Homo sapiens: one gene and its partners. The protein of the gene in region 2 interacts with the protein of the main gene of each other region in a biochemical or structural test. Each region holds a gene or a part of one and is shown on either strand. Other genes may lie near its edges. The genes, in order: IGF1R, SIRPA, HSP90B1 and INPP5D.

What was found.
Region 1: of the proteins of SIRPA (region 2) and IGF1R, one has a biochemical effect on the other in vitro, tested with the Homo sapiens proteins (one study listed by BioGRID).
Region 3: the proteins of SIRPA (region 2) and HSP90B1 form a complex in vitro, tested with the Homo sapiens proteins (one study listed by BioGRID).
Region 4: the proteins of SIRPA (region 2) and INPP5D interact in a biophysical measurement, tested with the Homo sapiens proteins (one study listed by IntAct).

The regions. Positions count from the first base shown.
Region 1 is NC_000015.10:98,651,538-98,658,572, forward strand, and holds part of IGF1R (insulin-like growth factor 1 receptor isoform 1 precursor), read left to right. Parts: intron 1-7,035. UniProt on the Homo sapiens protein: Receptor tyrosine kinase which mediates actions of insulin-like growth factor 1 (IGF1). Binds IGF1 with high affinity and IGF2 and insulin (INS) with a lower affinity. The activated IGF1R is involved in cell growth and survival control.
Region 2 is NC_000020.11:1,912,390-1,919,424, forward strand, and holds part of SIRPA (tyrosine-protein phosphatase non-receptor type substrate 1 isoform 1 precursor), read left to right. Parts: exon of another isoform or gene 1-1,933; coding exon of another isoform or gene 1,934-2,012; intron 2,013-2,709; coding exon 2,710-3,066; intron 3,067-7,035. UniProt on the Homo sapiens protein: Immunoglobulin-like cell surface receptor for CD47. Acts as docking protein and induces translocation of PTPN6, PTPN11 and other binding partners from the cytosol to the plasma membrane.
Region 3 is NC_000012.12:103,933,410-103,940,409, forward strand, and holds part of HSP90B1 (endoplasmin precursor), read left to right. Parts: intron 1-546; coding exon 547-878; intron 879-4,285; coding exon 4,286-4,397; intron 4,398-4,930; coding exon 4,931-5,050; intron 5,051-6,099; coding exon 6,100-6,216; intron 6,217-7,000.
Region 4 is NC_000002.12:233,168,331-233,175,365, forward strand, and holds part of INPP5D (phosphatidylinositol 3,4,5-trisphosphate 5-phosphatase 1), read left to right. Parts: intron 1-974; coding exon 975-1,071; intron 1,072-1,695; coding exon 1,696-1,834; intron 1,835-2,165; coding exon 2,166-2,274; intron 2,275-2,733; coding exon 2,734-2,822; intron 2,823-7,035. UniProt on the Homo sapiens protein: Phosphatidylinositol (PtdIns) phosphatase that specifically hydrolyzes the 5-phosphate of phosphatidylinositol-3,4,5-trisphosphate (PtdIns(3,4,5)P3) to produce PtdIns(3,4)P2, thereby negatively regulating the PI3K (phosphoinositide 3-kinase) pathways.

The DNA of each region.
Region 1 (7,035 bases), on a different chromosome or scaffold from region 2:
TAGCTTCTCTAGTTTTGTGTTTTTAATGTTCTGAAATTCAAAACAGCAGGGATGGCCTTCGCCGACGCAGGAGTCGGGCATTTTAAAATAGGCTGTTTTTCTTTTGGAGCGTTCTTCTTGAAGGATATTCTTTGTGCAAGACGGCGATTTTTGAGAACACAGGCAGGAGGGAGGGGGTGTTTTAATGTATGTTTTTACTCCATGATACCAAAGCTTCCCCCCAGGATCCCTTTACAGTGGTTAGTTCCTGGAAACCTGATGGGTGGTCAGAAGGCACCCCAAATCTCGATTATGGTTTGCTGAAGTCTTGACTGACTCAGTACCTGCCCCTCCCTCCATCTCTGAAATGTGGAGAATTAAAAGCTATGCCTGTGAACGGGCGTTCAGTTTTTAGCCGGGAAGGTGCTAGACCACTTAACTCTGATAGAAATAAGCTGCTGAGCCCTATCAGGGAGGGCGTTCTTTCAGCTGTTGTCTGGTGGAGAAATAAAGACAGGGTGTTGGTTCAGTTGCAGGTATTTTGCTGGCGTATTGAGAGATTAGAGTTTCCTCTTTGAGTGTGATGGCAGTAGAAAGAGTGTTGTTTATCTTAGAAAACTTAGTTTCTGAAGCAGAGGCAGTCATATGGATGTGTTTGTTTTGTATCACCATAATGTGAACAGAGCATCTAAATGAAGGCGGTTCGGAGGTTCTGAGTGATAGCCAGATAATCTGAGGGCTATTTTGTTTTTAAAAAGTCAGCATGCACTTTAAATTTATTGTACCCATCTCCTTAAAAGGATTCAGTCATCTTTCTACCCCAGGCATCCTGTTGTCACAGAAATGTAGGTATGTGAAATGTTGGTGTTTAAAGAAGTTAGTGTTTTATTACCAGAAGGAGAACCCAGAAAAAGAACTTCTGAAAGAACCTAAACAGCAAATTATAGTTTAGATCCTCTGGAGAGACATAGCAAGCAAATGGTGTTTTGTGGAAGGGTGGGGTTTGTGTCAGGATTTGAAATGTAAAAGGTCATAATGTTTGATTTGTCGAAAAAGATTAGAAAAGTTCAACTCTAAGAAATATGCTAAGGTTGAATAGATGAAGCTTAAAAATATCACAAAAAGTGAAAGAAGTCAGTCACAAAAGACCACATATCGTATGATCCGGTTTATGTGAAATGTCTAGAATAAACAAATCCATAGAGGCAGAAGGTAGATGAGTGGTTGCCAGGGGCTGGGGGCGGATGGAATGGGGAGTGACTGCTGGTGGGCACAGGGTTTCTTTTTGGGGTGATGAAAATTGTTCTAAAATTAGTTTGTGGCGATGGCTGCATAGCTCTAAATATACTTAAAACCATTGGATTATGTACTTTAAATCGGGGACTTTAATGGTATGTGAATTATATCTCAATAAACCCTTTTTTTTTTTTTTAAAGAAATGTGATCAGGTTGAAAATAACTTGTTATGCTACCTTAAATTACGTTAAAATTATTACATACATTTGACAGGCTGATGTCTCTCTCTCTTTTCATTTATGAGTTTTTCAGATCCGTGAGTTGCAGCAATACAACAAACTGATAATTGAAGCTTAGCAACAGGGATTCAATCCCGCAGTAGAAATGGGCAAGCAGGAGAAAAAGAATCTTGGTTCTATGTAGCTTCAGTTAGGGATTGAGGAGCTGGATTTAAAAAACACAAATGCTGGTGGAGGGCAGATTTTTGACAATAGAAACCTCAGCTGAATCTGAAATGATGGTTTTTTTCAGGATAGAGTTTAGGAGCTGAGTCTGAAGGGCTGTTTGTATTTCCAGTTTTATTATGTTTTCCAACAAAGAAAGACATTGCTGTTTTAAGATGTTTTAAACACTCATTTTTTGATATGCCACATTGACCACAAGTGGTAGTAAGGACTGAGGATGAACAGAACAGTTCATTTTAATGCAGTATTGTTGTTTCTTTTCTTTGCAGTTTTATTTTATTTCTTACATAGTTCCAGGGTCTGAGCAGGAGAAAGAATCTTTAGGATGCAGTAGTTTTAGGATACACTGTTTCAAGTATACAGTGATTTTTATAAAATTAAAATTCCTTACAGAACGAAAGGTTTTAAAATGTGGCAAAGGCATTTTTGTTTTGAAACTGTGTGCATTTATCCAGATTTACCCTGGCCTTTCAATAGGAAAAGACCTAGAGAATAATTGTTGTTTACATTTGCTTTTGGTCTTTGTCTAAGGCTTAGTTTACTAATAAAAATGTTTCCTGCCCTTCCTATTGTTGCAAGATCAGGGCAGTAATGAAAATCAACTGTATCATTTTCACTTGTTGCCTTAGAGTTTTTGCCAAGAGGAACCCTCAAGGGACGGTGGTTTCCTTTTAAATCTGGTTTCATTTGTTTTGTAAGAATGTGCTGTAAGAAGCAACTGAATCCAGCCTGCACTTATTGTGCACCTACTGTATGAAAGCTGACCTTGTGCTACTCAGTGCATGAACCTGCAGAGTCTTGCATGAAACCACCTTTCTTGAAATTCAGATTTTTTTTCAGACTCAGTATAGGGTGCAGTTTTCAAGTAGACAGTAGTTAGCATTTTAAAGGTTCTTTTAAAAATATTTCTGTAGACTTAGGACTCTAGTGTTGTTCATCAGAAGCCTTTACCCTATACCTTTTTTGCCTCATTGGTGCTTTCCGTTATATTGGGATGTCACTGTAGACTGTGACATACAGGTGATGTTAACCCATCTTGACTGGCGGCACTGTCTTCTTTATAACATTGGATATGGCAATTGTGATTTACAAACTGCAGTGTTGTAGTTGCCTTTTTCCAAAAATTAGGAGTCACAGGTGTGTACATGAACGTTGCATAGCATGTTTTGAGTTGTAAGAAAGATGGAACTTATTTCAGAAGTTTTCTGGATTACATATTGCTTAGTTAGCTTTCTAGAAATCAGGAAGCATTCATAATTTCAGGGCATTTTATAATTTGTAAATAACTTGGTGTTTTTAAAAGCGTGAGGGAGTAAGAGTGAGGAGACAAATCCTGAAAGTTTTTGTTTTTTAATTGTAAAGCATACAAGATACATTTCTTTATAGGTTGTGATTTTCCCCAATTTGTTTTCAAAACTCATTTAAAAATCAGACCTAGTTCATGGAAGAGGTATTTGCGCCTGTGGGCGAACTTGATTTGAACTGCTTTTCTTAGCCAGCTTAGGACAGGTGCTGAGTCCAGGGGATGAGCTCTTCTCAATTGTACTAAATATATAATAGTTGCACACATGTTACGGATATAGTTTCTTGATTTCCAGTCTGAGATGTTCTGAAGGAAAATTCTGAACACTTTAGAGACAACAAAGTGCCTAATGAGTGATGCACTCTGATCCCTCCTGGAAAATGGTGTTTGGCATCAGCTTAGCAAGAGGAGGTTTTCCAGTTATTTGTAAAGATGTGATGTGGCTTTAAGTGGGGATGGGGGAGGGTAGCAGCCCCAGTGTTTGTGGACATTGAGACCTGTTGACATTTGGGAAGCATAACTGAGTTCCACTATTTGAAAAGATTAAAACTTTGATATATGTACACATCCCCTCATGCCTGCACCCCCATCCCCGAGGGTCTGGAAAAGAATTGATTTGTTCTGAGGAAGGAACATATATTTGGAATATAAAATGGTTAGTAAACAAAGGATCTTTAAAACAAGTTAGATTGTTATCTCAAGAGAAGCATACTTCCTCGGCATGATGTTTTCTTTTGTTAAATTGCTTTGGTTTTATTTGACTCAAAGTATTAACAATACCTTTGATTTTGAGACTTTTGGACTTTTGAAGACTAAGTTTTTAAATGGTCAATTTTACTCGTTTGAAAGTCCCAGATACCATTTTTGAAGATTTCTCTCCCTTTTTTTCCACTGATGCCGGCTTTACTTATGTTTTATTTTCAAATCTTAAGGAAAAACTGATATTTCCTTACTTGAACTGAGAAATAGTCGTTTTCCCTCCCTCTTTTCTTCCACAGTAAATACATGTTGAGTACTTACTGGATGCAGTTCTTTAGGTTTAGAAATTATTTGATACTGTAAAATGTCTTACCATAAGTTTTTAAAGATACCCGTCAAACTATAGATGTTACTGCCATGTTTATTAAAAAAAAAAATAAAACGAAACAAACTAGTAAGCAAGCTTAAAATTTTTCTTTTTCCTGCCCTGGACTACAGATTTTTTTTTCTTTTTTTTTTTTGAGACAGGGTCTCTGGTCACCTAGGCTGGAATGCAGTGGTGTGATCACGGCTTGATTCTGCCTTGACCTCCCAGGCTCCAGTGATCCTCCCAAGTAGGTGGGACTACAGGCACACACCACCATGCCTGGCTAATTTTTTGTATTTTTAGTACAGACGAGGTTTTGCTATGTTGCTCAGGTTGGACTCAAGCGATCCACTCACCTCGGCCTCCCGGAGGGCTGGGATCACAGGTGCGAGCCACCGCCCCCAGCCTACAAGAATTTGTAAACTCATAGATTGCTCTTCTGTTTTCACTGGACCACAACAGAAAGTAGTTTCTTTTATGGTGAGGGATGAACACCTACGATTGCAATATAAGTTGTTGGGCCTTGTGTCCATGGAGCTCACTTGGTGGTTGGTGGTCTTGAAGCATTCACATTCTTTGGAGTAGTGGGGCGGCTGGCTAGTCACATGGGGAAGATGTGCACACCTGTGGATGGGGCCATCACACACTGCAGCGATAGCTGGGCCTACCTTACTGCTCACCTGGCTGGGCACAGCGGCTCCTGCCTGTAACCCCAGCACTTTGGGAGGCCAAGGTGGGCAGATCACTTGAGGTCAGAAGTTCAAGACCAGCCTGGCCAACATGGTGCACCCCCTTTCTACTAAAAATACCAGAATTAACCGGGCGTGGTGGCCCGTGCCTATAATCCCAGCTACGTGAGAGGCTGAGGCAGGAGAATTGCTGAAACCCAGGAGGCAGAGGTTGCAGTGAGCCAAGATGATGCCACTGCACTCCAGCCTGGGTGACAGAGCGAGACTCCATCACACACACAAAATACATATATAAAAATAAATTGCTCACCTGGTAATAGTCTGGAAAACATTTTTTTTTTGTTTTTTTGCATATTTTAAAGACTTTAGAAAGTAGTCTTGCTAATCCAGAAAGTTCTTGCGGGGAGGAGTTTGAAACTTTGTTTTATCTCACTCCTCAGTCTTAGCCCCCTTAATACCATAGGTCTCTACTTCAGTAAGAGTTACATAATACGAATGCCGTTTGTTCAGAATTGTGTATCTCCATCCATCCGTCCATCGTCCAAATTCTGCGAGTTTGAAATACATTGTTGTTGCTGTTTTGTATACTTTTGTTCAACCATTTTCTTTTTAACATGGCACTAGCTTTCTCAAACTGGCTTTGGAATTATTTGTCAGTTTAAAAATAAATACCACTTTAAAAATTACTCTTGACATGGGAGAACAAATATATTTTGATAGTTGTTAGAGCATAAATATTTTATAGAGCATAACTTGAAATTTTTCCTGATACATTGTGATTGCTTTCAGCTTGTCCTCTGCTGTAAAAAATATAGTCGTGGTTAGTCTCTGTAAAGTTGGTTATTGGGAATATGTGCTTGATTACGTAAATGAGACATCACCAATTTAAGTCAGCCAAAGTTTAGTCAATAGAACTTTAAAGAACAGAAGTCTAATGGTAATTAGGGAGAGATGAATTTATTTGTAGGAGTTTTCCCCAAATTCAAAGCGTCTTAGTGACCTTTGATAACTTCCTGGAAAAAGTAGGAAGCATGGAGAGAAATTCCAGGTAGGAGCCCATGATCCAATTGACTGCATCAGCTTACAAAGTGTTTTCTAAGTCATTAGCTATTAATTCTGTCTAGATTGTAAAATCCCTCTCAGTTGTGTCCACATTTATCTGTGTTGTCCTGTATTTATTCTCTTTACCTAATTTCCCTGAGTCTCATTTTAGTGGGATAATACACAAGCTTACAGACTCAGGACTTTAAAGAGAAGCACAGATTGCCACGAAAACAAATGAACACAGAGACCAGTAGCAGCAGAGGGAGATCTGCTGTGAGGCTTCCCTTAGTTCTGTTGTCTGATTTCTGTGGATAATGAGTTCACTGCATATGTTAGGTCACAACATGATATCGTGTAGTCGTAGGTACAGAACTTTTGTTATGGTAGCCTTTCTTCGTCAGGTGATACAATTGGGATTTTCTTTCTCACATGCACCTCAGTAAAATTTTCAGCAACAGAGATTGGCTCAGGATGGAATTTGTTCAGTTTCAGTTCTGCAGCCTGTCCTTTTCTGGGGAGACTCATTAATTGAATGTTGCCTTTCGATCTCACTGAGTCACTTGAAATCGCTCAGATTGACCCCTATTCCGGGATCCAGCCTGGTCCAGTGCAGACCTGCATTGACTCTGACTACATGCTGAGTTGGCCTCTGAACCAGTTCCTGTACCATTCCCTTAGTCTGATGGACTTGCCAGCTCCAAATACTCAGAACGTGCCTCTTGTGGTCCTAGGATCAAGTCCAGGGTCCTTAGAATCAAGTAATGAAACAGGTCCTTAGTAATCCTGTGCTGTAGGGATCCACTGTTAGTTCCTGGTACTCCCCAGCATCTGTGCATTAGCTTGATGGAAAGGAAGCTGTGTTATGCCTGTCTTCAAGTTTTTGCTTCTGCTGTTTCCATAGCTGAGAATGTTTTTCCTCTTCACTACTCTGCTACTTCTCCTTCCATCCTCAATACTGAATAGCAGAAAGTGCCGCTTAAGAACACAGGAAGGTCACCATAGCTTTAGTTTCTCCTTAGCTGCCAATTAGTTCTTTGGTCCTAAAGTTATTAACTTTTCTGAGTCTTGATAGAAATGCGGAGACTTAAAAATATTTGGGGGAGACATTTCTCCTTTTCTCACTAAACAACAGAATGAAAACCTTTTCTAACAGGTTTAGAAAACCAAAGTCAGAAAAATTGTGAGGAAATAGAATAGGTTTTTTAAATTGAAATAATTTCCAAGTTCCAGGTGGATCTGTAAAATAGGGACAAG
Region 2 (7,035 bases):
TCAACTCCACCTAACACATGAAGAGAGAGGAGATTTGCCCAGGGTCATGGAGCCAACGACATCCTTCCTTCCTTCATTCATTACCGCATTCATTCTGCATATTTTTATCGATGACACTGTGTTTTAGGCAGGAGGTTGGAAACAGTCCCTTGTGGATCCTACATCCTACTATTGGGAATGTGACAATCCAGAGAAAATCAAATATGTGAATAATACAGCTATGTGATAATAATGGGAATAAGAATTAAAACTTACCCAGCACCTATGCAGCAGGCATACCACCGTGTCAGGGTCCTCATGACTGTGCTGGGGTGGATGCCGGAACCCCACTTCATGGATGATGGAATGGGGGTCCAGGGAAGGTGGGTACAGAGGTGGCTAAGAGGGGAGCCATGCTGTCACCCAGGCCTGCTGGCCCTAGCAACTGTGCTTCCCCGAGGCAGCCTTTCCAGTTGGTCCAGTCTCGAGGCTGAAATACAGACCTATCCGGAAAGTTCCTAGCTCAGTGCTGCTGGTGCTGCCTCTGATGTCCCCGCCTGGATGGGCCTCCCGGGCCTCCCACACATTTGGCCACCAGCCTCACCCCTCTCAGGCCGTCTGATGCTGGCTGGGCCTCTGTCCACTGTGGGTTCTGTCTGTCCACTGTGGGTTCTGTTTTTTTCTCCTGTGCCATGAAGATCTTGCCATGTTCAACTTCAAATGGAAATGAAATGAGAAGCTGGACTTCCTGATAATAAAAGCAGTTGAGGTCTTAAGTGGTTGATCAGGAAAAGGAAGTCGAAATGGTAATATTTACACCCAAAGCAGGTGGAGTGGTCTTAGGCACTCTGAGACTCCACTCACCTGCCATGAGAACCGGGCCCCAAGGGTGATCCCTTGCCAGAGTCAAGACTGGGTGAGGCTGGGAATGGGAGAAAGAGGCAGGACAATGGGCAGATAGCCCTGGGCTTCCTGCAGTGAGGGCAGATAGGGGTCTGTGAGCCTCTTTCCCTGGCTGCCCTGCCCCTGCCAGTGGGGTGGTGCCAGGCCATGGGTTGGTGGGCAAATTCACAGGGTCTCTCTCCTCCCCAGCCAGAGCCAGAGGGGCACAGCAGCTCTGGACATCTGCCGCAGCCTTGTCTGATGTACAAGGCAAAGGTGGCCCAGGTCAGGGCAGGACAAGGTCACATGAAGGGTCAGTGGAGAGCCCAACTGGGGCCCCAGGTCACCTGTCACCTGCATACCAGGTAGCTGCCACTCCTCTGTCTACCTGGTTCTCTCCTTCTCCCCTATTCTAGCTCGCTCTCTCACTCTGCGTCTGTCTCTCAGGCATGTGTTTCTCTGAGGTCTTTATGATCATGATCTTTCTTTTTTTTGTTTCTTGTACCTCACCTTGTTCAGAATCGAGGCCCTGGCTCTGCCTTGCTCTGAACTGTTCTCACTTGGTCCCTATCCATCTTCAACGCATCTCATGACAAGCTCGTCCTGCCCTCTTCCTGTCTGGGCTCCCCCCGTGCACCCCAATCTCTCCACCCAGGGTCCCTGTCTTGTGTGCCCCAGTGTCTCTGATTGGGGCTCAGGCTCCTGCAGCCAACCTCTACAATTCCTTCCAGCTGCCCATTTGGGAGCCCTTGAGGCCTGGACTGGGTCCAGCTCCAGTGTGTCCCCATCACAGTGAGGCCTGGATCACAGGGCATCAGCAGGTGTTGGTGAGAGTGAAGTTTGAGCCACAGCCACCTCCTTGTTTATTCAATGTATAGTAACAACAACTTCCTCAGGGCCCATCTCAGGGCTAAGTGACTTCTATGTGTGATCTCGTTTTCTTTTCAGAACAAAGCAGAGGCCTGGGGGCTGTTCTACCCATCCTGTAGATAAGAAAACTGAGACTCAAAACTGATGGATAAATTAAGGTCCCACAAGAACAAGGGGCGAGCCAGGTTTCAAACCAGGTCCGATGACTCTAAAGACCAGATGCTGCATTTGGACGCTGTCCCCAGCCTTGGCTTATTTTATCCTCCCAGAGATCCATCGAGGTGGGGTCATAGTAACTATTTTACAGATGAAGAAACCAAGGCTGAGAGCAGTAAGGGCAAACTAAGGGCAGCTCTTGCATTTGTGTGACACTTTGCTAGCCAGGCTCAGTCCTGGGTTCCAGGTGGGGACTCAAACACACTGGCACGAGTCTACATTGGATATTCTTGGTTACCTGAGTGGTGGCCCAAGGACACAGCTATAGGCCACTGATCCAGAACTCAAACTACATTCTCCTACTGCCCAAACCGCTGAGTACAGCCTCCCTTCTCGGGGCCTGCATCCTGGGCCAGGCCAGAAACAGAATCTTAACACCTTGTACAGCCCCAGATATGCCAGGCCCCTACCTCTGAGTCTTTGCCCAGGCTGTTCCCTCTGTCTGGAATACCAGGCTCCCTTCTGGCTCATTCAGATTAGAATTAGCCCAGCTCAGATGTGACTCTTCCAGAGAGGGTCCAGGCATTCAAACCCACTCTCTGCCATGTCATTTAGCTTTCTGTGCCTCAGTGTCCCCACTTAGAATACAGGCTCATGTTGCAGGTTTGTTGTGAGGGTCAAATGAGATGATACATGCACTATACTGATCTCACAGCCTGCTTCTGGTGTGCATCCAGTCAATGAACGTCATTGATAAACACTTGAGGAAACACAGAGGATCACGTAAGGATGAAAAAATGACTGCTTTGTGCTCCTTTCCAGGAGTGGCGGGTGAGGAGGAGCTGCAGGTGATTCAGCCTGACAAGTCCGTGTTGGTTGCAGCTGGAGAGACAGCCACTCTGCGCTGCACTGCGACCTCTCTGATCCCTGTGGGGCCCATCCAGTGGTTCAGAGGAGCTGGACCAGGCCGGGAATTAATCTACAATCAAAAAGAAGGCCACTTCCCCCGGGTAACAACTGTTTCAGACCTCACAAAGAGAAACAACATGGACTTTTCCATCCGCATCGGTAACATCACCCCAGCAGATGCCGGCACCTACTACTGTGTGAAGTTCCGGAAAGGGAGCCCCGATGACGTGGAGTTTAAGTCTGGAGCAGGCACTGAGCTGTCTGTGCGCGGTGAGTACAGCGTGGGCCTCCTTTGCCTCTGGTTTGTGACAGTAACTCAATAATAACACCCTCCATTCTTTGAGCAATGATCAGGTGTGGTGGTAGGTGCTCCTTTCCATGAATTGATGTCTCCCCCTTTTACAAATAAGGGAAGTTGAGGCCTGAAGACGTCATGCTATTTGCTGAAGGCTCCACAGCTGGTAAAGGGTGGGAACATCTGCATCCTTCATCTGCCTGGCTGTGTAGCCCTGGCCTCTTCAAAGCTGACCCAGCCCTTTCATTCCACAGATGAGGAAACTGACAGATAGTGTGACTTGCCCAGGCACAGGACCAGACCTCACCTGCTGCCTCCAGAGAGCACTTCCCTCTCAGGGCAGCCGAGTCTCCTCTATGTGACAGGCACTCACTGAGAACCTACTGTGTGCCAGGCTCCGCCAAGCTTGTGTTCTCATCCCTTCCAATAAGAGATCCACCCAGGGCAGGGAGCAGAGAGGGTGTGTTTCCTTTATTTCATCACCAAACACCAACTGAGAAGATTCCTAAAAGGCACAGATTTACTGTTTAATCTGATGGCCCTGGTGAGAGGAGAAGCCAGAGGGTTGGGCATTTTCTGTGGGTCTTTTAGAAAAACACTTGTGTGATTTAGGGACTGATTCATGCGTCACTAAAGGCTCTGAACAAAGCTGGGTCATCATAGAATGTCTCTCACCCCAGGGAGGAGGTCTCCCTTCTAGGTGACTTTGGGTTCCTCCGTTAAGGCAGCAAAGATGCTCATTTTGTATTTACTGCCAGAGCCCCAGGATCCTTGTTCTAACTCCGAATCCTGGGACATTAGTACAGGAAGGACCCTCAGACCATCCAGCCCAACCCCTAGTTACAGGTGGAAACTTGAAGTCAGGAGATGACAGGGGCCTTGTCCACAGTCATAGGCCCAGTTAGTGACAGGATCTGGACCAGAGCCCACATCTGATTCCAGGGAGGCTCCTTCATTAGCCATTGTTTACATAGAAGAGCCTGGTGCATCATAGGTGCCGACTGAAAGCTCCTTGAACAGAACTGCTAAGCAGGAAGCCAGCACTTCTCCTTTCCATCAGTTTCCTAAAGGTTCAGAATATTCACATTCAGACCGTTAGGCCCACTGGTGATTGGAAAACCGCTCCCAAATGTAAGCCATATCATTTGATACTGAGATTTCATATCAGGATAGAGACCTGCTCCATTGTGTAATAGCTACAGAATACTCCAGCTTATGGAAATACCAGATTTATTTTACCATCTTCCATTGATGGATACGTAACTTGTCCCCAAACTTGAACTATTAAAACAGTCCTGCAGTGGATGACCTTATACATGTGTGACCTTACTCAGGTGGGAGACGCCCACTGCAAGTGCCATTGCTAGATCAGAGGGGGTGTGTGTTTTAATGTGTGTGGATATGGCCTAATTTCCCTCCTAGACATTATAACAATCAAGTCTCCCCACAACCGCTGGACATAGGCAGGGAGGGTGGCTTTATCCTGATTGTGCAGATGTTACAGGAAAAGACGTTGAAGTTCCCAGATGATGCATCTCGTGCCTAGACAATCACAGCAAATACGTGGCTCAGGTGTGACCCAGATCTGCTGACTCCTAGCAGAGTGCTCACTCCTCTTTGCCATGCTGTCAGCCTAAATGATGCCCTGGATGAGAAAGGAGGGAGGTGGGAGGGGGCCAGGGAGCAGCAGCTGGATTGGATCCTCATCCTGGCACTTTCTCCTTTTATAACAAGTACTTATGAAGGAAGAGCCATTTCTTGCCCCCTTTACAGATAAGGACTCTGAGGCTCAGAGAGGAGACCTGTGTGGTGAGCCAGTGGGGGAGCCAAGGTTTGATCCCCACCAGCCTGACTCACAGCCCCTGTCTCTGTAACACTCAGCTATGCTTGTCAAAGTGTGGAGAAATGCTCCACCCTACTCATTCCAAACTCTTGCAGTTCTATAGCAATAAGCATAGGCTGAGGCAGGAGAATGCTTGAACCCAGGAGACGGAGATTACAGTGAGCCGAGATCGCACCACTGTACTCCAGCCTGGGTGATAGAGCAAGATTCTGTCTTGAAAGAAAAAACAAAACAAGTCCTATGGGAGTAGGAGGGACTGGCCCCCATCAGAAAGGTCCTGCAGATGTCTCATGATATGGGAACTTGTTCCTAAAGGACAGGTCTCAGCACATCACTGAGTAGCATCCATGGAGCAGAGTTGGGCCTCCTGCAGCCCAGCAGACCACGTGCCCACCTACTCACGGTGCTGAGGACTAAGGATGAGGAGATGAGGCATTTCCTGGTGGGTGCTTGGGGCTCATTGGAGCAAGAGTTTATATTATCCCCTCAGGCTGTCAGGAGCCCACTGACTTCAGTTTATGGCTATAGGGTAACCAGATCTGGGTACCCTGGAGGGAGGCTTCTCCCTAGAACTGCATGAAGTCAGGGATCTCAAAGGGAAAAAGGGAAGGTGGTGGTCAGTGTCAGGGTTCATGAAGTTCAGGCACTTGCTCAATTGATTGACATGAGAGCTTGGGGAACACTGGAAATGCCCATTGGGTACATGAGGGATGAGGAGACAGTGCCTTCGCTTTTCTCAGCCTCAGTTTCCTCATCTGTAGAATGGTGATAATCAGGGACTCCTTTGGCAGAGTGGAAAGGATTTGAGTTCCTGTGTATAAAACACCCAATGCAGAGTAGACACCCCCAAATCAAGGTTTTTTGTTTGTTTGTTTGTTTTTTCTTTTTTTTTGAGATGGAGTTTCACTCTTGTTGCCCAGGCTGGAGTGCAATGGCACCATCTCGGCTCACTGCAACCTCCACCTCCTGGGTTCAAGCGATTCTGCTTCAACCTCCCAAGTAGCTGGGATTACAGGGGCACCCACCACCACACCAGCTTTTTTTTTTTTTTTTTTTTTTTGTATTTTTAGTAGAGACATGGTTTCATCATGTTGGCCCGGCTGGTCCCAAACTCCTGACCTCAGGTGATCCCCCCACCTCGGCCTCCCAAAGTGCTGGGATTACAGGTGTGAGCCACTGCGCCCTGCCATCAAGGTGTTATTTTAAGATGTGTTACCTTGGGCAACCCAGTTCCCCTTGCTGAGCCTCAGTTTCCCCATGCGTAGAACGTCGATAATTGTACCAACCTTTCCAGGATGTTATGAGGATGCAATGAGCCTGGGGCGACGATAGACCTTAGTAAGCAATGGGGTTTTCCCAAGGTCATGTGATCTTGGGCAAATCCTGGCTTCCCTTGAGTCCTCAGCTTCCCTGTCTATGAAATGATGATGATGATTGCCAACCCTCACAGGTTCTGTGAGGATTGGAGAGGATGTACAGAGCCTCGGAATGGTGGCGGTGTTCGGGTTATCACTGAGCTCCTGCAGAAGTGTGGTTAGGAGAGTGTGGCCAGAGTCCAACTGCCTGGGCCACATCCCAGCTCTGCCACCTCCTGGCTCTGTGACCTGGGACAAGGCACTCCACCACCATGGGCCTCAGTGTCCTCACTTGTCAGTGATAACACCAACCTCACAGACCAGGAGTTGGGACCGAATGAGTTAAATCCTGTAGCGTGCTTAGGGCAGCAGGCGCCTGGCCTGCAGTCAATGTTCAACAGATGTGAGCTGTGTGATGCTGAAGCCATGCAACCTCAGATGGGTTAGTGCTCCTCCAGGCCTCAAGGATAAATGGTCCTTAGGATGTACTCAGGTAGTTTTCAATCTTGGCTGCTCTTTAGGATCATCTGGGAAACATTGAAATAAATCCCAGGCTCCACCACAGAAATGCCTCTTCAATTGGCCTGGCATGGGCCTAGGCATCTAAAGTTTTTAATTAATCCAGAAGATTCTAATACAGAGTCAGGACTGAAAACCCCTGGGATAGACACCCAGAGGTCACGGAGGACAAGTTGGAAAAGATGGTCCTCTTGGGGTGCCAGATGGGAGAACAGCTTTTCAGGGTG
Region 3 (7,000 bases), on a different chromosome or scaffold from region 2:
ATTATAATTAAAGGCTCAGCCTGAAAACAGAGCTCTCCTTTACAACTCATTGGCCATTTATAACTCATTGGCCAAAACTAGTCACATGGCCTTAGCCATTCTTAAATGGAAAGTAGAGTACTCCTAAGTTTCTGGAAGGCAGACAGCCAGGAATATTGAGTGAAGAATATTAATGATCCATCACAGATTCCAAATAGAGGAATCATTCAAGTTGTTTTGTATTCTAGTAAAGAAATAGGCAAGACATAAAATTTTATTTTTCTTGAATTGTTTTCCTTCAAAGGTAACTTGTTTTATTTAGGTCAGCCTCTAACCTTTGACATTTAGGCCAGTCTGCCCATTTGATATTAATACTTTCTCAAATACATAAATTACTTTAAGATGTACACTTTCAGAAAAGGCCATAAAAAACTATGTGGAGGAAAATATCTCAGTTTAGTTTTCTGTATTGGAATTGATGGGACCCAAAGCTGGTTAGTTCCTCAATATTTGTTTGGCATAATGTAAATATTAAATACAACTATCTGGTTCTTGTCTTGCATTTAGTGTGATAAGGAGAAGAACCTGCTGCATGTCACAGACACCGGTGTAGGAATGACCAGAGAAGAGTTGGTTAAAAACCTTGGTACCATAGCCAAATCTGGGACAAGCGAGTTTTTAAACAAAATGACTGAAGCACAGGAAGATGGCCAGTCAACTTCTGAATTGATTGGCCAGTTTGGTGTCGGTTTCTATTCCGCCTTCCTTGTAGCAGATAAGGTTATTGTCACTTCAAAACACAACAACGATACCCAGCACATCTGGGAGTCTGACTCCAATGAATTTTCTGTAATTGCTGACCCAAGAGGAAACACTCTAGGACGGGGAACGACAATTACGTGAGTATGACCAATTCCTTATAAGAATTAATAGTCATGGTGAGGATCTTGACTCTCCAGTTCTATTCTCTGAGCAAATGACTTATTCTGGGCCTTAATTTTCCTGCCTTATAAAATGAGGAAACAGAACTGTTGTCACTTGAAGAAATGTTTGAGGACCTGCAAAGGGCCAGGCACAAAGGTTTGTGATTGCTGTTGTACATGGAGGGTATAAAGTAGGAAATAGCAGCAGCTTCCCCAAGGGAGAAGGCTTCTTGGGTACCCACAGAGGAGGCACTGCTTGGTCAGTTTCCCAGGTTAGAAGAGTAATTTGTCTGTGGAGCATCCTGAATAAAGGCATGGAGGCATAGCATGCTCACTAGATGAACAGAGTTCTTTTCGGTGGCAGTTATGGATAGAATGTGATGAACTTTTATTTATTTATTTATTTTGAGACGGAGTCTCACTCTTGTTGCCCAGGCTGGAGTGCAATGGCACAATCTTGGCTCACCACAACCTCCGCTTCCTGGGTTCAAGCAATTCTCCTGCCTCAGCCTCCCAAGTAGCTGGGATTACAGGCATGTGCCACCACGCCCAGCTAATTTTGTATTTTTAGTAGAGATGGGGTGTCTCCATGTTGGCCAGGCTGGTCTCGAACTCCCGACCTCACGTGATCCACCCACCTCGGCCTCCCAAAGTGCTGGGATTACAAGCATGAGCTACCGTGCCCAGCCAGAATGTGATGAACTTTTTAAGATTCTCAAGGTGGTGTGGAGGATGTGAGGAGTGGACAAGGGGAGACTCTTTGGGGGAAATATTCCTCTTGAAAATATTCAAGATGAGTGGTAGCAACCAGGGCTGGGGCTGGCTTGTAGAGATAAAGGGCTTAAAGAAAGTTCATGAAAGTTGTGAAAGCTGTGGAATAAAATACGTCATTTAAGGATAGTTACAAGTTTTTAAATTTGAATTAAGATCCCTCTTAAGCCAGTAACTGTTGTTTGTATGGGTGAGACAGAGCCAGTGCCCTACAGTAGCTCTCGTTGCTTATAGCACTGTGACGTAGACAGGGCAGCTTTTTGCCTTTTTAAAATTTTACCATCTTGGAGATGAGGAAATTCTATTTCAGAGGTCAGTTGGCTTGCCAACTCCTGCTAAGTGAGTAACAGAATGTGCCCACAGCTTCAATTTTTTTTTCTTAATTCAGTTTTAAGTTTTCTTAACATTAAGGGAAAGAAGCACATACTTATCATTGTGACCAACTTTCTTCATCCTAGAAAGTAACATTTCCTGTTTTTACTGCAGCAGATGTTCTTTTAATGAAGACTAATTAGATGACTGCATTTTAGTACTTTTTTAACTTGTGTTCCCAATTTACCTTCCCCTGCCTTCGTCACTAACATTGATGTCTCCAGGTTTCATTTGGAGGCATCACTAAGAGTTATGCCCCAGTGCCCTCTCTTTTTAAGCACTGGGCTAGATGTTGGAGAAGGATAGGGCAATCATTCCCAAGGAAAGATAGAAAGTGATGTCCCAAGAGATGTTAATGTCAGGTTGCTAAGAAGCAGGTGAAATTATCTGGATATAAGCTCCATGAAGGCAAACATTTTGTTGGAAGCTCCATTCCCAAAGCTTAACACTTAATTGGCAGCCATTTGTATGAATAAGTGAGGTTAAACAGGACAGTTCCATGCAGGGAACGATGGCTGCTAACACCTATCCAGGACCTAGTTTCCATGACCATGCATATCTTTTTAAAAATTTCCTTTGCCCACTTCTTAAATGTTAACATACATTTTCTCCAAGTTAAGTTTCAGCCCTTTTCTCATTGTCCATGTGATCTTTATGTAGTCTTATCCACTGCCACGGCCTCAGGTTCCATCTCTAGTTCTCAAATTTATATTCTTAGCCTAGATCAGGAGTTAGCAAACTTTTTCTTAAAAGAGCCAGCTAGTAGAAAAAAAGATAAAAGAAAACAACAAGAAAGAAAGAGCCAGCTAGTAAATATTTTTAGCTTGTGAGCTATATGGTCTGTCACATGTCCCAACTCTGTTTAGCTTGAAAGCAGGCATAGACAATACATAAGGATGTGTCCCAGCCAAGTGTGGTGGCTCATCCCTATAATCCCAGCACCTCGGGAGGCTGAGGTGGGAGGATCACTTGAACCCAGGAGTTTGAGGTCAGCCTGGACAACATAATGGGATCCCATCTCCACAAAAATAAAAAATAAAAAATTAGCTTGGCACAGTGGTGCATGCCTGTAGTCCCAGCTACTCAGGAGGCTGAGGTAGGAGGATTGCTTGAGCCTGGCAGGTCAAGGCTGCAGTGAGCCATCATCACGCCTGGGTGACAGAGGTCCAAAAAAAAAAAAAAAAAAAAAAGTGTCCCAATAAAATTTCTAATGGGTGCCAGCTGTACAGCTATAGCTTGCCAGCCCCTTGTCTAGGTCTCACTACTGGGCTCTGTGTTCATGTGTTTAATTGCCTTTTAAATGCTTCTACCTAAGATATCTAACCAGCAGCTTCTACTTGCATCCAAAACTGAACTCTTAATCCCCAAATCACTAGAACATGTGCTCTGAGACCAGGGGCCTAGTCACTCACTAGGCTTTGTCATATCATGGCTACTTATTGGCCAGGTACCACTAAACTAATGAGCCTTTTGAGACAGGGAGGGAACCATAGATAGACCATTTCCCATACTTAATTGGGAACACAAGTATCAAGATATGGACTACCTACTGTGCTTAAGAGTAGGTTCTAGGCCGGGCACAGTGGCTCACACCTGTAATCCCCGCACTGCCCGGTAGAATTTTATATAATAGTAGAAATGTTCTATATCTGCACTTTTCCATTTTGGCGATCACCAGCCACATGTGACTGTTGAGTACTTGGAATGTGGCAGCATAACTGGAACTGAACTGTACATTTTATTTAAATAAGTCACATGTGCCCAGTGGCTGCCATTTTGGATAGTGCAGATATAAATATAAACCAGATTAATTTTCTAGCTTTTTTAAGGAAAATGTTTTCATTAATTAGGAATAGTTATCTACAATAATCATTAGGTTTCTGGAATAACAGTAAGAGCTATGAGAGTGCATGATTCCATTTCTCTCCAGAATATTTCAGTGCTTTCTCACCTTGAAAAATGAAAACAATCTATTCAGACGGTTGGGAATATTTTAATTTTCTACTTAAAACTAAGGTTATTCTCCACTTGAGGTAATGTAGAGGAGATTCTTCTCTTTACTGTATCTACATGTGTTACATTTTAGCTCACAAACCCTTGTTGGTGATGGAGAGTTAACATGAATAATTAGGACATCTTGGATTATACTGAACTGCTGGCTATTACCATGGTATTTAAATGAATTTATAATCAGATCTTCTAAATGTTAGGTGTCTCTAAACATCGAATTTTTCTTGCAGCCTTGTCTTAAAAGAAGAAGCATCTGATTACCTTGAATTGGATACAATTAAAAATCTCGTCAAAAAATATTCACAGTTCATAAACTTTCCTATTTATGTATGGAGCAGCAAGGTAAATCTATATTGATTAAAAACTTATATGTATTACCTTGGCACGTATTTAAATATTCAACACTAAAAGAATGAAGGCAGGCCGGCGCGGTGGCTCATGCTTGTAATCCCCGCACTTTGGGAGGCCGAGACAGGTGGATCACCTGAGGTCAGGAGTTCGAGACCAGCCTGGCCAACATGGCGAAACCCTGTCTCTACTAAAAATACAAAAATGTTAGCTGGGTGTGTGGTAGCACACGCCTGTAATCCCAGCTACTCGGGAGGCTGAAGCAGGAGAATTGCTTGAACCCGGGAGACGGAGGTTGCAGTGAGCCAAGATCGCCCCACTGCACTCCAGCCTAGGTGACAAAGCAAGACTCTGTCTCAAAAAAAAAAAAAAAGAATGAAGGCAAAATGTGGTCTATTAGTTAAGGATACTCTCAGGGTTTTCTTACAAAAACCTATTTTTTGACCTGTAATGTTATATCATATTCTGTAGACAAAATCAGAATTGTTAAACAAATGAGTTTAACCATAATTCTCTTATTTCAACAGACTGAAACTGTTGAGGAGCCCATGGAGGAAGAAGAAGCAGCCAAAGAAGAGAAAGAAGAATCTGATGATGAAGCTGCAGTAGAGGAAGAAGAAGAAGAAAAGAAACCAAAGACTAAAAAAGTAAGTCTGGTTTATCTCCCTGCATAAGATATTGTTTAACATGTATAGGCAAAACCAGGAAAACCTAAGTATGCACTGGCTGATTTGAAGTCAGCTTCAGTTCAGGTGCTAAGTCCATGGAGCCAGCTTTTAAAATAAGGCCTTTGTTTGTATGTTGAATACATTGTCCTGTAGAAAGTTTTAAGTATCAAACCCAGGTCATTTTTATGAAGAGTTTTCTAACTTTTATATATTGCCTAGGACTGGTGGCTTATATGTTTGGAATTTTAAAATCTTAAAAAGCCTTCTGAGTCCTCTTTTGTCTTTTTATCATGCAGAGATTAACCATAAAAATGGTTCTCTGGCTTGCTTAGGTAGCAGACTAAGAAGTATTGATCATGGTGGTTGAGAAATATTTTTGTAAAATGTTGGATTTCTTTAAGTCATGAAATGGGAATATATAATATGTATTTCCTTCTAACCTCAAAACAAATATTTTCAAGAAACATTTTTGCTAGTTAAAAAATAACAATGAAGAAAAACTTAAGTGGCTTTTCATCAGTTAACAATTGTCTTTTTGAATTAAATATTGAGAAAAATACTTTGCTTTTGATACAGTTGGCAGAAACCTTACTAGATAACAGGTATCCTTTGGTGCCCTTTTTTTTTTTTTCTTTAATTTGGAGACAGAGTCTCTGCCACCCAGGCTGGAGTGTGGTAGCACGATCATAGCTCCCTTCATCCTTGAACTCCTAGGCTTAAGCAGTCCTTTCACCTCAGCCTCCCAAGTAGCTAGGACCACAGACACACGCCACCATGACTGGCTAAGTTTTAAAAATTTTTTGTATAGTTGGAGGTCTTGCTATGTTGCCTGGACTGGTCTTGAACTCCTAGGCTCAAACAGTTCTCCTACCCTAACCTCCCAAAGTGCTAGGATTACAGGCGTGAGCCACCACACCAGTCCTCTGGGTCTTTACATAGTCTTTTGAAATCTACTGAAGCCATGGTTACTGCTAGGATAACCTTGGTGAGTGCTGAGAGAGACTAATCAAATACTATAATAACTTCAGGTTGAAAAAACTGTCTGGGACTGGGAACTTATGAATGATATCAAACCAATATGGCAGAGACCATCAAAAGAAGTAGAAGAAGATGAATACAAAGCTTTCTACAAATCATTTTCAAAGGTAAATATTTATAATTCCCTAGTTTCTGGTTATTAATGAATAGACAAAATATCACCCTCTTAGTTTAATTGTATATGGTATGTGACCATGAATATGAGATGGTCCATTCCCATTTTTTCCCAGTGAGAAAATTCAAAAAAAGACCTTTAGGCCAACTATAATATGTCTACTTCTGGTTTATTGACCTAGTCACAATTAAAATCACATTTATGAACCTTTGAGATTGACACCTCAGTAGAGATGGTCTTTGAGAGTAATTGGTTTCCAGAACACACCATTTTTACTTAAGTTGAATTATTATACTCATCACTACTTCAAAATTGCAGCAGTTATTAAAATTAGTCCTAGCTCTTAGTGAATAGTGAAACTACAAAATCAAGAATGTTTGAAACAGTTTTATGGCTGTTTAAACACAATTGGTTTCCTTTTTATTCCTGTGTATTTTGTAATATGTGATTTTTTTAAAAAAATTATTTTGAGAAGGCATCTGTAGCCTTCACCAGCTTGCCAAGGGTTTTGTGTGACAAAAAAAGATTAAGAACCACCTACATAGGTAGATGTGTGATTTCCACCACAAAACCCGTAAAACATGAAATCATGTTGTTAAGTGGCTTTTAATATAATCTTTAAAGAGCTTGCTTATGACATCAAACACTTATTGTGAGATCCTATGCCTGGGAATAATTACTAAATTTATGTTTCCTTGCCTGTTTTTTTTTTTCTTCTTCTTTTATTGATCCCTTCTTGTAACTCTTAAGGATGCAAAACTAGCATTGATAAAGTT
Region 4 (7,035 bases), on a different chromosome or scaffold from region 2:
CCAGCCACATTTCAGGTGTTTGATAGTCACATGTGGCCTGTGCCTGTATTGGACAGAGCAGGTTCTCACCTGCATGTGTCAGAATCACCTAGAGCAGGGGTTAACAAGCGTTTTCCATAGAAGGCCAGATGGTGAATATTCTAGGCTCTTTGGGCCACACAACTGTCACAATGCTTCAGCTCTGCCATCGTAGTCTGAAAGCAGCTACAGACAATCCAGAAGTCAATAGGCATGGCTGTGTTCCAGTAACGTGTTCTTTACGAACACTGAAATTTGAATTTCGTATTTTCATGAATGACAAAAGATGGTTTTTCTTTTGATTTGTTTCCAACCATTTACAAATGTAAAACCATTTGTAGCTGGCAGTGAGCCAGCATTTGCCCACCCCTGACACTGGAGGGCTTGTCAAACACAGATTACTGGGCCCCATCCCAGGATTTCAGATTCAGTAGGTCTGGGGTGGGGCTGAGAATCTGCCCTTCCATGAAGTTCCCAGGTGATGTGCAGCTGCTGGTCCAGGGAACTCCCTTTGGGAACCACTGACCTAGAATAGATCAGAACGTTGGCAGAAAAAGGTATGATCTCAGTGTGGGTTTTTGGTCTCCCCAGGAAACTTGAGTTCACTGGGAGGGAGATCAGCCCACCCAGGCTGGAACCTTCTGAATCTTCCCAGGGCTTCTGGCTGCCCGCTTAGCACCCTGGTCACTTTAGAGAGAGATGCCGGGGGAGGATCGCAGCAGCCACCTTCCTCTGCCCCGCCGAGAAGGCTGAGGCTGCCGCCATCTGCACTGCTCCTGCATTTTCTCATCTCCCGCTCTCTGCCCAGCGGCTCCCACCCTGCACGACCCTGTTTCGCCCATCCCTTGCCAGCTCCTCACTCACTGCCCCTCTCACCCTGCCTTCGGGTGATTTCTGGCCCCTTGGCAAGTGTGTCTGTTTGATATTTTGATTCTTCTTTCTGCTCTTCTTTTTAGGGAACAAGGGAGCCGTGGGGGTGTCGTTCATGTTCAATGGAACCTCCTTAGGGTTCGTCAACAGCCACTTGACTTCAGGAAGTGAAAAGAAACTCAGGTAATGGAACTCCTTCCCCCCAAGAGTGTGCATTTGGGCTGTCTGCCCAGACACGCCTCACACCTTTAAGCACCAGAAGGACCTGCTCAGCTCCTGCCTTTGACCTTGTGGATGTCCTGTGGCCTTTCAGGGCCCACCACAGTCTCATCAAAGGCAACTGCAGCACCATAGTGACCTCACGTGTGGAGGAATTTTGTCTGAAGGTCAGAAAAGATATTTCCTTGTGTCATTAGCCTGATGGACCGCTAACTAGCACTGTTTCTAAAGCAGAAAGCCTCCTCTGGGGCCTCCTTACAAATCCAAGCTGATCTTGCCTAGCTGGGGCCCAGGAATGAAGACAGCCATCTAGAATCTTCACTGTTCTGATTCTCTGCTGAGCAGATGCTGCTGCTCCTGGTCCCCTGCCCTCTGTACACCCAATGTGGCCTCAAATGCCCTTTGCATCCTGGCTGTGCCATATTTGCACACTAAGGAGTTCTGCTGCAGCAGGGCTGGAGGGCTAAGTCTCACTTCCCCCCACCTGCTATGCTCCTCGCCCCACACCTATGGCAGGAGTGACTTCCTGCCACAGTGGAGGGGGAACCAGTGACCCCGTGCTAGATGGCCGCTTTTTCCTTGCATTAGGCGAAACCAAAACTATATGAACATTCTCCGGTTCCTGGCCCTGGGCGACAAGAAGCTGAGTCCCTTTAACATCACTCACCGCTTCACGCACCTCTTCTGGTTTGGGGATCTTAACTACCGTGTGGATCTGCCTACCTGGGTAAGGGCTGCCCGCCTGGGGCTGGGGCTGGGGCTGTATGAGATGGAGGCTCCCTTGAGTCAGCTTGGGGCAGGTGGTCGTGGAGACATGTGAATCAAGTGGGCTGAGGCGGCTGCTCCCCTTGGGGGCTCAACGCTGTTTCCATTACTGAGCCTCAGCCGCTCCTCACGGTTCCCCTGTGCTCACACCCGGTTCCCATAACTGTCACAGCCACCCTGCCACCATCACTCTGCAGCCCGGGTCATCCAGCTGCCCGCCCCCAGCCCCGAAGCTTGTCAGGCCTGGATCAGCAGGGCTTCTCACCAGAGGCCCGGGCATGTTCTTGTTCCAGGAGGCAGAAACCATCATCCAGAAAATCAAGCAGCAGCAGTACGCAGACCTCCTGTCCCACGACCAGCTGCTCACAGAGAGGAGGGAGCAGAAGGTCTTCCTACACTTCGGTAAGAGCAGCAACCCCGGCTGGGAGCGGTGGCTCACACCTGTAATCCCAGCACTTTAGGAGGCCGAGGCGGGCGGATCACGAGATCAGGAGATGGAGACCATCCTGGCTAACACAGTGAAACCCCGTCTCTACTTAAAAAAATACAAAAAATTAGCCGGGTGTGGTGGCGGGTGCCTGTAGTCCCAGCTACTTGGGAGGCTGAGGCAGGAGGATGGTGTGAACCAGGGAGGCAGAGCTTGCAGTGAGCCAAGATCGCGCCACTGCACTCCAGCCTGGCCAACAAAGACAGACTCCGTCTCAAAAAAAAAAAAAAAAAAAGCAGCAGCCTCTCCTCTTGGAGCCTTTCCAGCCATCCTTTCGTCCCCTTTCCCCTGATTTCCTACCAGAAGAATAGGGAAAATTGGCCAGATGCAAAACCTGGGGAATCAGAATTAAAACGAAAGTCTCTCTGTTTCAGAGGAGGAAGAAATCACGTTTGCCCCAACCTACCGTTTTGAGAGACTGACTCGGGACAAATACGCCTACACCAAGCAGAAAGCGACAGGGGTGAGTCCTCTTCATAGACACCTTCCCTGCCCTCCATCTCCTCCCCGCTGGTGTCTGTTCCCAAAAGGTGAACAGAAAGTGTCTTCATCCATTAGGCAAAAAAAAAAGGAAAGAAAAAAATTAGAAAGCACATGTTGATTTGTGTTACAGAGTAAATGGGAAGCCACACTTGTGCACTGCTTTGAGCTGGGAAAATAACCCTTGTGATTTACCTTCTGTCCAGATACTCTAAGATGCTGAGAGGACTTTAAAGTATTATTTCCTTAACTGGGTTCTGAAGATCATTTTTTTAAAGTCCCGTGATCAAATATATTTACTAAACTGCTGAGTGAATTAACATTAAGCAGGTTTCTTCGCTGCAGGACTTATCAGAGCTTTTATGGGCCCAAGAGCACTGTGGTTCTCCATGAGGAAATCTGTATGCCAAACTCAGTTATTCATGGAACACCAATTAATGTCTTATGAGGCCACTTGTTTTCCAAGGAACAGTGTTTTGGGGAAAGATGCAATAAAATATGTATTCATTTGTTCAAAGATATTTCCTGATGGCCTATTATGGGTTAGGCACTCTCCTAGGTGATGGGAGAGCAAAGATGTCTTTTCCAGGGACTTCACAGTAGGAAAAACAGATATGCAACTAGCTGTAGCCAGAGCCAGAATGTGACAATGCCAGGGCAGGGAAGGATCAGGGAAGCCAGCCCCTGGCAGGATTCAAGGGTCAAATGGCTGGGACGGTGAGGTACCCAGGCCCACTAGAAGCCTAGGGCAATGGAGCGCAAGTTCAAAGTGTCATCTGAAAGAGTTCTGGGCCCCATCTGGGCTCAGGAGAAAGTGAAGAACTGGACGTGGGAGAGGAAGGCCAAGCGCTGGGTGGATTTTAGAACAGAGCAGGAGAGGAAGAGAATACAACTGAGAGGACAGGAGGAGATCCCGGACTGCTGTCACCCACGAGGCTGGGACCCCCAGGATGGGACACCCCATTCCGCAGGGTCCACTGCCTGCTGTGTGGATAAGGTCACCTGGCCCAAAGGCACTGTCAGAGCAGGTCCTTGGGGATCCCTGTGCAGGCTGGTGAAGGATGGTTTGCTTTGATGTGAGTTTAAGTTGAGGCAGAGGAGGGCCTGAGATGGGAGAGTGGCCGGTCCTAGATGCCAGGATGACAGGCCACAGGGGGCCACTGCAAGCTCTGCCGGGCACTGGTGCATCAGAGTGGCATGTGCAGAATTGTGGTGGGCATTGTGGTAAAGGATGAGGACGCGGCAGGGGCATCGGTGAGGAGGCCGTTGTGCACATTCAGCTGAGCAACAGCTAGGGCCGAATCAGGGAAAAAACAGTGAAAATGAAAGAAAGGGGGAAATCAGGATATATTGCGAGACCTGATTGCCATTGATAAAAACTGGAAAATCACAAGGCGGAGCTGGCTTGAAGGGGAAAAAAATAGAACTTGTTTTCAGACTTACTGATTGTGTGACATCAGTGGAAGAACCCAGAGAAAATACCCAGAAGGCAGCTGAAAATAGCGATGCGTCGCTTAACAACGGGGATATGTTCCGAGAAGCGTGTCATTAGGTGACTTCGTCATTGTGGGAACCTCATGAAGTGTGTATACACAAAGCCCACTTCAGTTAGATGGTGTGGCCTATTGATCCTAGGCTACAAACCCGTATAGCATGTTACTTTACTGAATACTGTGGGCAACTGTAACACAATAAGTTTTTGTGTATCTAAACATTAAAAAGGTACAGTAAAAATATGGTATAAAAAGAAAAAAATGGGCTGGGGGCAGCGGCTCATGCCTATAATCCCAGCACTTTGGGAGGCCGAGGTGGGTGGATCACTTGAGGTTAGGAGTTCAAGGCCAGCCTGGCCAACACGGTGAAACCTTGTCTCTACTAAAAATACAAAAATTAGCCATGCATGGCGGTACACGCCTGTAACCCCAGCTACTCGGGAGGCTGAGGCAAGAGAATCGCTTGAACCCGGGAGATGGAAGTTGCAGTGAGCCGAGATCGCGCCATTGCATGCCAGCCTGGGTGACAGAGCAAGACTGTGTCTCAAAAAAAAAAAAAAAAAAAGAAGGTGGTACACCTGTATAGGGCACTTACCATGAATGAAGCTTGCAGGCTTGGAAGTTGCTCTGGGTGAGTCAGTGAGTGAGTGGTGAATGAGTGCGAAGGCCTAGGACATTACTATGCACTGCTGTAGACCTTACAAACACTGTACACTTAGGCTACCCTACATTTATTTTTTAAATTTTCTTTTTCCAATAATAAACTAACCTTAGCTTACTGTAATTTTTTATTTATAAGCTTTTTATTTATAAACAATTTAATTTTTGACGCTTTTGTAATAAAATGTAGCTTAAAATACAAACACATTGTACAGCTGTACAGAAATATTTTATTTCTTTATATTCTTAATCTATAAGCTTTTTTTCAAGTTTTAAAATTTCAAAACTCTCATTTACATTGACTTTTTTGTTGAAAATTAAGACGTAGGCTGGGCACCGTGGCTTATGCCTGTAATCCCAGCATTTTGGGAGACCGAGGTGGGTGAGTCACCTGAGGTCAAGAGGTCGAGACCAGCCTGGCCAACATGGCAAAACTCTTGTCTCTACTAAAAATACAAAAATTAGCTAGGCGTAGTGGTGTGCACCTGTAATCCCAGCTACTTGGGAGACTGAGACAGGAGAATCGCTTGAAACCTGGAAGCAGAGGTTGCAGCGAACCGAGATGGCGCCACTGCACTCCTGCCTGGAGCAAGGCTCCGTCTCAAAAAAAAAAACAAAAACAAAAACCATAAATGCACACATTAGCCTAGGCTGAAACAGGCTCAGGATGGTCAATGACATTATCACCCACCTCCACATCTCATCCCATGGAAGGTCCTCGGGGCAATAACATGGAGCTGTCGTCTCCTATGATGACAATGTCTTCTTCTGGTTACCTCCTGAAGGACCTGCCTGAGGCTATTTTATAGTTAACATTTTCTTATAAGTAGGAATACACTCTAATGATAAATAATATCGTAAACACGGAAATGAGTGACAGTTGTTTATCATTATCAAATATTATGTACTGAACAGAATTGTACTGTTATGCTTTTACACAGCTGGCAGTGCAGTGGGCTGGTTTGCACCAGCATCCCCAGAAGCATGTGAGTAATGTGTTGCGCTGTGACGTGATGACAGCTACAGCAGCACTACGTGATGGGGATTTTCCAGCTCCATTATAATTTTGTAGGACCTCTGTCCTATATGCAGTCCATTACTGTGGTACATGACTATTTGTGGAGCCCCACGGGTAATTCTCAGAGGCAGCTGATGCCGAGAACTGCAATGTTAAGAAGTAACTGTTTAGGCTGGGCACAGTGGCTCATGCCTGTATTCCCAACACTTTGGGAGCTGAGGCAGGTAAATCATTTGAGGCCAGGAGTTTGAGACCAGCCTGGCCAACATGGCGAAACCCCATCTCTACTGAAAATACAAAAATTAGCCAGGTGTGGTGGCGCACTCCTGTGATCCCAGCTACTCAGAAGGCTGAGTCAGGAGAATTGTTTGAATCCGGCAGACAGAGGTTGCAGTGAGCTGAGATTGCCCCACTGCACTCCAGCCTGGGCAACAGAGTGAGACCCTGTCTCAAAAAAAAAAAAAAAAAAAGGACTTAACTAACTGTTAGGCAGAATCAATGAAAACTAAAAATGCACCTATTCTATGATTCAGTAATTCCGCTTTGGTGTGTGTTCAAGAGAAATTTGTATATTTGTTCACCAAAAATAGGTATAAGAATGTTTAGCCGGGCATGGTGGCTCACGCCTATAATCCCAGAGCTTTGGGAGGCCAAAGCAGGTGAATCACCTGAAGTCAGGAGTTCCAGACCAGTCTGGCCAACACCGCGAAACCCGTCTCTATACAAAATTAGCCGGGCATGCTGATGGGCGCCTGTAATCCCAGCTACTCGGGAGGCTGAGGCAGGAGAATCACTGGAACCTGGGAGGTGGAGATGGTGGTGAGCCGAGACCATGCCACTGCACTCCAACCTCAGCAACAGGGCGAGACTCCATCTCAAAAAAAAAAAAAAAAAAAAAAATGAATGTTTATGGCAGCCTTGTTTGTAATCTTCAAAACTGAAAACAACCCTATGTCCATTAACAGTAGAGTAGATAAATGTGATACTTATAAACAATGGAACTTTTATAAGCAACGAAGTGGCTG